2 separate regions of the Homo sapiens genome follow, and region 1 is linked to region 2. The links come from fine-mapping of genetic effects on gene expression. A gene starts in region 2. The other region holds a variant in brackets. All regions are shown on one strand. Distances are from middle to middle.

Region 1 (4,384 bases), 140 kb after region 2:
CCTGTGGTCCCAACTGTTCGGGAGGCTGAGGCAGGAGAATGGCTTGAACCTGGAAACTGGAGGTTTCAGTGAGCCGAGATGGCACAACTACACTCCAGCCATGGTGACAGAACAAGACTCCATCTCAAAAAAAATAAAAGCATCCCTTTCTTATGCAGCAAGTGCCTGGCTTAGGGAACCTGTTACCCTTCTGCAATGAAGTAGAAGTTGGAGGTGCTCTTATGGGTGACCTATCCATATAGGGTGCTAAAGGGAACTGGAATGACTTGGGGACATCCCTAACCTTTGAGGCTGACGTCATGGTGATAACCACTCACCCACAACACATCTTGTGGTGCCAGTTCTCCATAAGATGGATAAGGTCCCTAAACACACGGCTGCACGTCTGATGTTCTTATGAGCACGCAAAAGGAACCAGGCCCTCCCTGCCAGGAAGCTGCAGGGAAATTAGAATCATTTGACGAGTTGTCCATTCTTTCATTTGTCTAGTAAGGAGGTACTGAAAGCCTCCTCCTAGGAGCCGAGTATGGTGCCAACAGCTACAGGAATGGCAAACCATATAAATAGCCCAAACAGGATATAATTAGCGTCGGACGTGCACATGTCATGGGTGGAATGATGCAGAAAGAGTGATGCAGCCCCCATCTGGGGCTGGCATCACATGGGACGAGGCGCTTGAGCTAGACATGGAAGGATGAGCAGTGTGATCGCCAGGTGGAAAGGCATTACAGAGGAACGGCATGTGCAAACACCTGGGGGTGCAAGGAGGTGTGTGTGAAACAGCAGGGCTGGTTCAGGGAGCAGCAGGCAGCTATCCCACTCACGCAGTGTGTTTAGTGCTGGGCCTCTTCATCCCCCGACTTAGCAAGTCCATCATTCTCTAAGGTGATTTATAGGTAAGGAAGCTGATGCTCAGAGAGTCTGGGTAACTTGCTTAGAGTGCCACAGCCAGTGGCACAGCTCAGATTCAAAGTCAAGTTTGTCAACTTCACAAATCTGTGTTCTTTTTTTTTAAGCTCCCCTTTCCCAAATCTGTGCTCTCAACTACCATGCGGAACTGTCTTTATAATATGATGCAGGACCTCTAAGCCAGGCATGGCAATTTGGACTTGATCCAAGGCAAAGTTCCTCCAAATACCTGCTATTTGCACTGTACCTTCAAGTTAAAGCTGTCAGAGCCTAGAACTTTCATTTTCTTTCTTTCTTTTTTTTTGTTTTGAGACGGAGTTTCATTCTTGTTGCTCCGGGCTGGAGTGCAGTGACGCAATCTCGGCTCACTGCAACCTCCGCCTTGCTGTTTCAAGCGATTCTCCTGCCTCAACCTCTCAAGTAGCTGGGATTATAGGCACCTGCCACCACGCCTGGCTATTTTTTTTGTATTTTTAATAGAGACAGGGTTTCTCCATGTTGGGCAGCCTGGTCTTGAACTCCTGACCTCGGATGATCCGCCTGCCTTGGCCTTCCAGAGTGCTGAGATTACAGGCGTGAGCCACCACGCCCGGCATCATTTTCTTAATGTTTGTCTTTAAATGTTTCACGTTAAAAAACAAAAAGCAAACAAACAAAAACCCAAAATTTAAGTAATTTTGGTTGATCACGGTGGCTTACCACCGTGGCAAACCCAGAAATTTGGGAGGCCGAGGCGGGAGGATCACTTGAGGCCAGGAGTTCAAGACCAGCCTGGGCAACAAAGTGAGACTCCTGTCTCTACACAGAATCAAATAATTTGCCGGGTGTGGTGATGTGCACCTCTGGTCCCAGCTACATAGGAGGCTGAGCCAGGAGGATCACCTGAGCTCAGGAGGTCGAGGATCGCCTGAACTCAGGAGGTCAAGGCTGCAGTGAGCTGTGATAGCACCACTGCACTCCAGCCTGGGCCACAGAGAAAGACTCTGTCTCAAAAAAAAATTTAAATA[A/T]TTTTTTATTGATGCATAATGTACATATGAAAGAGTACACAAATCAATCACTTTTCATTTGTGTAAGAACACAATAATTTTTCACCCAGGTCCAAAACAGAATATTATGAGTCTTCAGCAGCCCCCTCCAATGAACAACTCCACAGGGTAACCACTCTCCAAGCTTTAACAGCATAGATTAATTTTGCCTGCTTTTGAGTTTTATATAAATGGAACCATAACAACTGCTCTTTTTTGTGCCTGGCTTCTTTTGCTCAGCATTTGTGTGGCTTAATTCATTTTCACTTGATACAGAATTCTATTATGTGAATATACCACGTTACCCATTCTACTGATGAACATACAGGTTATTTTTCATTTTTGGCTGTGATGAATAAAGCTGCTATGAACATGCTTGTGCATGACTTTGGTAAATGCCATGTACTCATTTCTGCTGGAATTATACCTAGGCATTGAATTCCTGGGTCATAGGGTAGTGTAGATATGTTTAGCTTCAGCAGATATGGCCAGTTTCCAACGTAGTTGTTACAGTTTATATCTTCACTGGAAGTAAATCAGACTTCCAATTGTTCCACACCCCTGCCAACATTCGATACTGTCTTTTTCGCTTTAGCCCTGTGGGTGTATAGTGATATCATGCTGTGGTTTTGCATATCTCTGAGACTAATGAAATTGATCACTTTTCATGTTTATTGGCCACTCACATATCCTCTTTTGTTAAGTTTTAAGGCCTTTGCCCATTTTTATTTCTATTGATTTTTTAAATTGATAAGTAAGAGTTTTTTTTTGTTTTTTTTTTTTGAGACAGGGTTTCACTCTGTCACCCAGGCTGGAGTACAGTGGTGCAATCTTGGCTCACTGCAACCTTCGCCTCCTGGGCTCAAGTGATTCTCATGCCTCAGCTTCCTGAGTAGCTGGAATTACAGGCGTACACCACCATGCCCAGCTAATTTTTGCATTTTTAGTAGAGACAGGTTTTGCCATGTTGGCCAGCCTAGTCTCGAACTCCTGGCCTCAAGTGATCCATCAGCCTCAGCCTCCCAAAGTGCTGAGCCACCGCACCCCGCCAAGAGTTCTTGATATATTTGGGATGTTATTTCTTTGATAGATATGCAATTTGCAATATTGTCTCCCAAATAAATTTATTTTATGGAACATTACTACCATAACTAAAGACCCAATATCACATGTCACATATAGTAGGTAACTGTAAAATAAATAAAATTAAGACCATGTTATCTTTCCATTCTAGCTTGATATCTTGCTGCTGGTGGCTGTGGCTGGGATCCTGATCCCTGCAAAAACGAGAGATTAGCAAGAGAAAAACAGATGTGAAGGATAACAGGGAGACTCTCCTTGGTGTACTCAAAAGGCTGGACAGAGTTAGAGAAGAAACAAGTTCCTCATTTTGCAACTACTAAAGATCACTGCAGTGCACCTTTGGTACATGGTATGGGGGTCCTTGAACCTCCTAGAATCATGCCATATGCCACTCACTTTGTGAGTCCTCCACTTAGGGAAACACAACTGTATGGGATGTGGATGCAATGAGGTTGGTAAGCAGGGGTTGACATAATAAGAGTGGTGTTTTAGAGAAATCAAGTGGCAATGAGCACAGAAGCAAAGGCGGAGGAGGGGAGCCTGAGGGAGGAGCAGTTGAGGAGATCCAGGTGGCAAACGGGGAGGGTCTAAGCCAGGAGTGAGCCAGGGGCTGGGGTGGCGTGGGGTGGGAAAGATTGGAGGTAGAATCTGGGAAAGCAGTGACTGGTTGATGGGTTGATGTGTTAAGTGACACTGGGATTTCTTTTTTTTTTTTTTTTTTTGAGTTGGAGTCTCACTCTGTCACCCAGGCTGGAGTGCAGTGGCACGATCTCCGCTCACTGCAAGCTCCACCTCCCAGGTTCACACCATTCTCCTGCCTCAACCTCCTGAGTAGCTGGGACTACAGGTGCCCGCCACCACTCCCGGCTAATTTTTTGTATTTTTAGTAGAGACGGGGTTTCATCGTGTTAGCCAGGATGGTCTCGATCTCCTGACCTCATGATCCACCTGCCTCGGCCTCCCAAAGTGCTGGGATTACAGGCGTGAGCCACCGTGCCCAGCCAACACTGGGATTTCTAAACTGGGGGACTGGGAGGAGAGAGGTAGCAAAGACAGGAGAAGGAAATTATGGGGAGAGAGGAGATGACAAAATCAATCTGGGATACATTGAATTGGAAGTGTTTACATGACCTCAGAGGGAGATTCATTCATTCATTCATTCATTCGTTCATTCATTCATTCATATTTACCGAACATGTGCTGGCACCAGGCATGCAGCTGTCCATCAGACAGACAAAATTCCTGCTGTAATGGAGCTTAACGTTTGTGGGAAAGACAGATGGGGGAAGGACAGATAAAGACAAGCAAATAAAGAGGAAGTGGTGGGAGGTATGCCTGGGGCTCAGGGCTCCAGGCTGTGGAATGGA
Region 2 (4,384 bases):
AGATACAGGGTAGAAGCAGGAGTTGGCTCATGCTGGATGGGCCCAGGACATGGAGGAGTTCCCTGCCCTGGGGAAGGTGGGCAGAGCTGCTTGGTGCTTCCTGGCCCAGGCTGAGCAGAGAAGCTGCAGCTCCTTCTCTGCTTCCTTTGGGAGGTTTCCTGGAGGAGCGGGGCTTTCGGGGTTGGATTTTTGAAAGCCAGGATTAACAAAAGGTAGAGAGCAGGCTGGCGGGGGGGTCTATCTGTGCAATGGAGTATTATTCAGCCACAAGAAGGAATGAAGTATTGACACATGGTACAACATGGGTGAGCCTTGAAAACATGCTAAGTGAAAGAAGCCAGACACAAAAGGTCACGTACTCTATGATTGCTTTTTTTTTGAGATGGAGTCTTGCTCTGTTGCCCAGGCTAGAGTGCAGTGACACGATCTTGGCTCACTGCAACCTCTGCCTCCCGGGTTCAAGTGATTTTCCAGCCTCCCCAGTAGTTGGGATTATAGGTGCCCACCACCACACTCGGTTAATTTTTGTATTTTTGGTAGAGACGGGGGTTTCACCACGTTGGCCAGGTTGGTCTTGAACTCCTGACCTTAGGTGATCCGTCTGCCTCAGCCTCCCACAGTGCTGGGATTACAGGCATGAGCCACCTCGCCCAGCTATCTATGATTGCTTTATATGAAATGTCCAGAATGGGTAAATCCATAAAGATGGAAAGTAGATTAGTGGTTGCCAGGGACTGGGGGAGGAGAGAATGGCAAGTGACTGCTGACGCCTGTGGGGTTTCTTTTTGGGCTGATGACAATGTTCTGGAATTAGATAATGGTGATGGTTGCACAACCTTGTGGCTATACTAAGAATGACTGAATTGTACACTTTAAAATGGATTTTATGATTTGTGAATTATATATTAAAAAATAAAGAAAAAGTAGGCTAGGGCTCAGGCCCCTTCCTCTGGATGGCAGTGGTGGCAGGGGGGTGGTTTGGAAAGACTCCCCCCCACACACACACCAGGCCTCACCCCACTCCTTCCATCTGGGGGACAGAGGCTTCGGCTCACCGAGAGTGACAAGCTGCAGGTGCAGATCCAGGCGTACCTGGACAATATTTTTGATGTGGGGGCGCTGCTGGAGGACACAGAGACCAAGAACGCTGTGCTGGAGCACATGGAGGAACTGCAGGAGCAAGTGGCGCTGGTGAGAGTGGGTCCTGACCCCAGCCCAGCACATCATAGGCCCACAGGGCACACGGGCCACAGGGCCACGCAAGCATGGGCACTGGGCAGCAGACAGTGTTATAATTGTGCATTGGAGGTGCTGCCTGCCTGGCCCCAGAGCCTGGCCTGAATCCAAAGCCTGAATCTGTTGGGTGTCTTTCTCAATGAGTGTGGGTGAGCACCCTCACTGACAGGCCCCTCCTCTACCCAGGCTCAGACCCCAGGTGAACTGAAATGGGTGCCTGGGGCCCCTCCCAGCTCAGTCTCCTCCTCTCCCTCCACCTCCCGCATCACTGGTACCTTGGTTTCCTCTCCTTATTTGCTTGGGTTCGAGTGCCAGGCTCGGCCCACCCTTGGCACCTGGGCTGAGCGGATCTGGGAGCCTCCCCCAGTCTTCCAGGCAGGCATGCCTGATGCCGCCCCCTCACCGGCGGTGCCAGTGCCGGGCTGCGGGTCGGGGCTCACCATGTGCTGGTGCTACAGCTGACAGAGCGGCTTCGGGACGCGGAGAACGAATCCATGGCCAAGATTGCAGAACTGGAAAAACAGCTAAGCCAGGCGCGCAAGGAGTTGGAGACCCTGCGGGTGAGGCTGGGGCGGGTGGTAGGCCAGGCGCCCAAGAACAGGCCAGCTGAGGCTTCTAGGCTTGACATCTCCCTCCACCCCGGGAAGAAGATGGAGGCTTGGTGCCAAGGAGCCTGCTGGTGGGCACTGACCCCTCCCGTGGGGTTCGTAGGAGCGCTTCAGCGAATCGACCGCCATGGGGCCCTCCAGGCGTCCCCCAGAGCCTGAGAAAGCGCCTCCCGCTGCCCCGACGCGGCCCTCGGCCCTGGAGCTGAAGGTGGAGGAGCTGGAGGAGAAGGGGTTAATCCGTATTCTGCGGGGGCCGGGGGATGCTGTCTCCATCGAGATCCTCCCCGTCGCTGTGGCAACTCCGAGCGGCGGTGATGCTCCGACTCCGGGGGTGCCGACCGGCTCCCCCAGCCCAGGTGCGCAGGAGCTTCAGGCTGGCGGGGATGCGGGGCAGGGTCTGGAGGGGAGCCCAGGGGCATCTGTGGCGGGCAGAGTTGGGCGAGGGAGGTTTGGATTGTAGGCTCGGCTCAGGTAGGAGCGCATGCGTAGAGCGGAGAGGCGGAGAGGGGCCCACCCAAGTCAAGGAGCTGACTCGCGCCTCCCCCACGCCGCGCCCTCGCTGGCTCAGATCTCGCACCTGCAGCAGAGCCGGCTCCCGGAGCAGCGCCACCGCCGCCGCCCCCACTGCCCGGCCTCCCCTCCCCGCAGGAAGCCCCGCCCTCTGCGCCCCCACAGGCCCCGCCTCTCCCTGGCAGCCCGGAGCCCCCGCCTGCGCCGCCGCTGCCCGGAGACCTGCCGCCCCCACCCCCGCCACCGCCACCACCTCCGGGCACTGACGGGCCGGTGCCTCCGCCGCCGCCGCCGCCGCCGCCGCCTCCCGGAGGTCCTCCTGATGCCCTAGGAAGACGCGACTCAGAATTGGGCCCAGGTGAGTGGAGTGGACCACCTTGGGCCCGGGGCTGGGGGGAGATGGAGGGAGGGGCCTGGGCCTCAGTGTCCTCCAGGGTCCTCTGCCTGGGGGCCTCCTGCTGCCTCCTGGCTGCCCCATCAGCCCTCCCTGGGCCCAGGTTCCCTCCAGTAGTACCCCCAGTGCTCACCACTGCCCCCAAACCCCCGTCCCAGGAGTGAAGGCCAAGAAGCCCATCCAGACTAAGTTCCGAATGCCACTCTTGAACTGGGTGGCACTGAAACCCAGCCAGATCACCGGCACTGTCTTCACAGAGCTCAATGATGAGAAGGTGCTGCAGGTGAGTGGCCCTGCCTGGCTCCCCATGTGGGCACCGGAGGAAGAGGGGAGTTGCCTGGATCAGGCTGGGCCCTGGGGGTAGTCATTTTCTCCAAGCCATTTCACAGATGAGGAGGGGGAGGCCCAGGGATGGGCATTAAGCCAGACTGGACCAATACCTCTAACAGGCAGAATCCTGCTTTCCCAAACGCCTTCCCCTCCATCCCTGCAGAGGGGTGCCTCCCCTCACCCCACTTCTTCTGCCTCCAGGCCTCTTTCCTTCCACTTTCCCACAGGCAGCCAAGGCTTCAGCCCTCCTGATTCCACTTCCAGTTTTCCAAAAGGATGTATTCTCTTGCCTCTAGGCCATTGTTCCATTCTGTTTCCTCTGCCTGGAATGTCTTTTCCTTTCTCCTTTTTACCGCTGGCCAGTTCAGCTCTTCCTTTAGCTCTTGTGGCCCCAAGTCTGGATCCCCCGGGTTAGGCGGCCCTCCTCCTCCAGGCTCCCTGTGCTTCCCCTGTGCCTCCCATCAGGGCCTGTGGTCAGGCTGGGTTACTGGTTCTCTGCTGGTGGCCTGGTCAGGGCCAGATGGATGGCTCTAGCACTGTGCTCAGCCAGGAGAGTGCCAGACCCCAGCCCCACCCAGCTCCGCCTCCTCACCCTGTACCTTCAGGAGCTAGACATGAGTGATTTTGAGGAACAGTTCAAGACCAAGTCCCAAGGCCCCAGCCTGGACCTCAGCGCTCTCAAGAGTAAGGCAGCCCAGAAGGCCCCCAGCAAGGCGACACTCATTGAGGCCAACCGGGCCAAGAACTTGGCCATCACCCTGCGGAAGGGCAACCTGGGGGCCGAGCGCATCTGCCAAGCCATTGAGGCGTGAGTGTCCCTGTCCTGGGTTTGTGGGCAGTCCGGCCCCTTTGCTAGGCTGGGGTTGTCAGGCAGATCCTAGTAAAAGAGCCTCAATGGTGAGCTCTTTCATCAGGCTTCATACCAACCCTGGTCCAGGAAACTTGTCCCCATTTTAAGGTGGAGAAAACTCAGTCCATGCCTAAATTAGGATGTCCCACTTCCTCCCTGCCTCTTTGCCTAGCTGTGAGCACCCAGGCTGTGGGATTTACAGCCGGGCGTCCGCCGCTGACGTACGATGGGGACCCTGGCTGCCCAGTTCCCAGTTTCTCTGGATTCCCAGTTCCCAGTTTCTCTGGATTCCTACCTCTTGCTCTCTGAAGCTGTTGGCAAATAGAAAATACTGAAATTCATTTATTCAATCAAGGCAGGGGTAGCCCTGCTCCCAGGGACTGGTGGGTATGGATGATGCCCAATCTCCCCTCTCCTCCCTCTCACAGGTACGACCTGCAGGCTCTGGGCCTGGAC

Evidence for each region. PIP is the estimated chance that this variant, and not a neighbour inherited with it, causes the effect. A credible set is the group of variants that fine-mapping cannot tell apart.
Region 1: its variant is the best candidate, but not a certain one, in a credible set for the expression of FMNL1-AS1 in esophagus mucosa (GTEx, PIP 0.52).

Annotation. Positions count from the first base shown.
Region 1 is chr17:45,379,971-45,384,354 of GRCh38, forward strand. No RefSeq gene overlaps it. Among named protein-coding and RNA genes, the nearest start is that of ARHGAP27, 51 kb to the right of the region's middle. The variant A/T (reference allele first, on the strand shown) is at 1,917.
Region 2 is chr17:45,239,435-45,243,818 of GRCh38, forward strand. It overlaps FMNL1-AS1 (FMNL1 antisense RNA 1), which reads right to left and starts at 2,336. Exons shown (of 3, transcript NR_186808.1): 1 at 1,677-2,336; 2 at 1,056-1,170. FMNL1 (formin like 1) reads left to right here. Exons shown (of 27, transcript NM_005892.4): 12 at 1,042-1,191; 13 at 1,695-1,796; 14 at 1,948-2,200; 15 at 2,413-2,712; 16 at 2,907-3,031; 17 at 3,684-3,886; 18 at 4,357-4,384. RefSeq lists an enhancer at 1,728-2,446.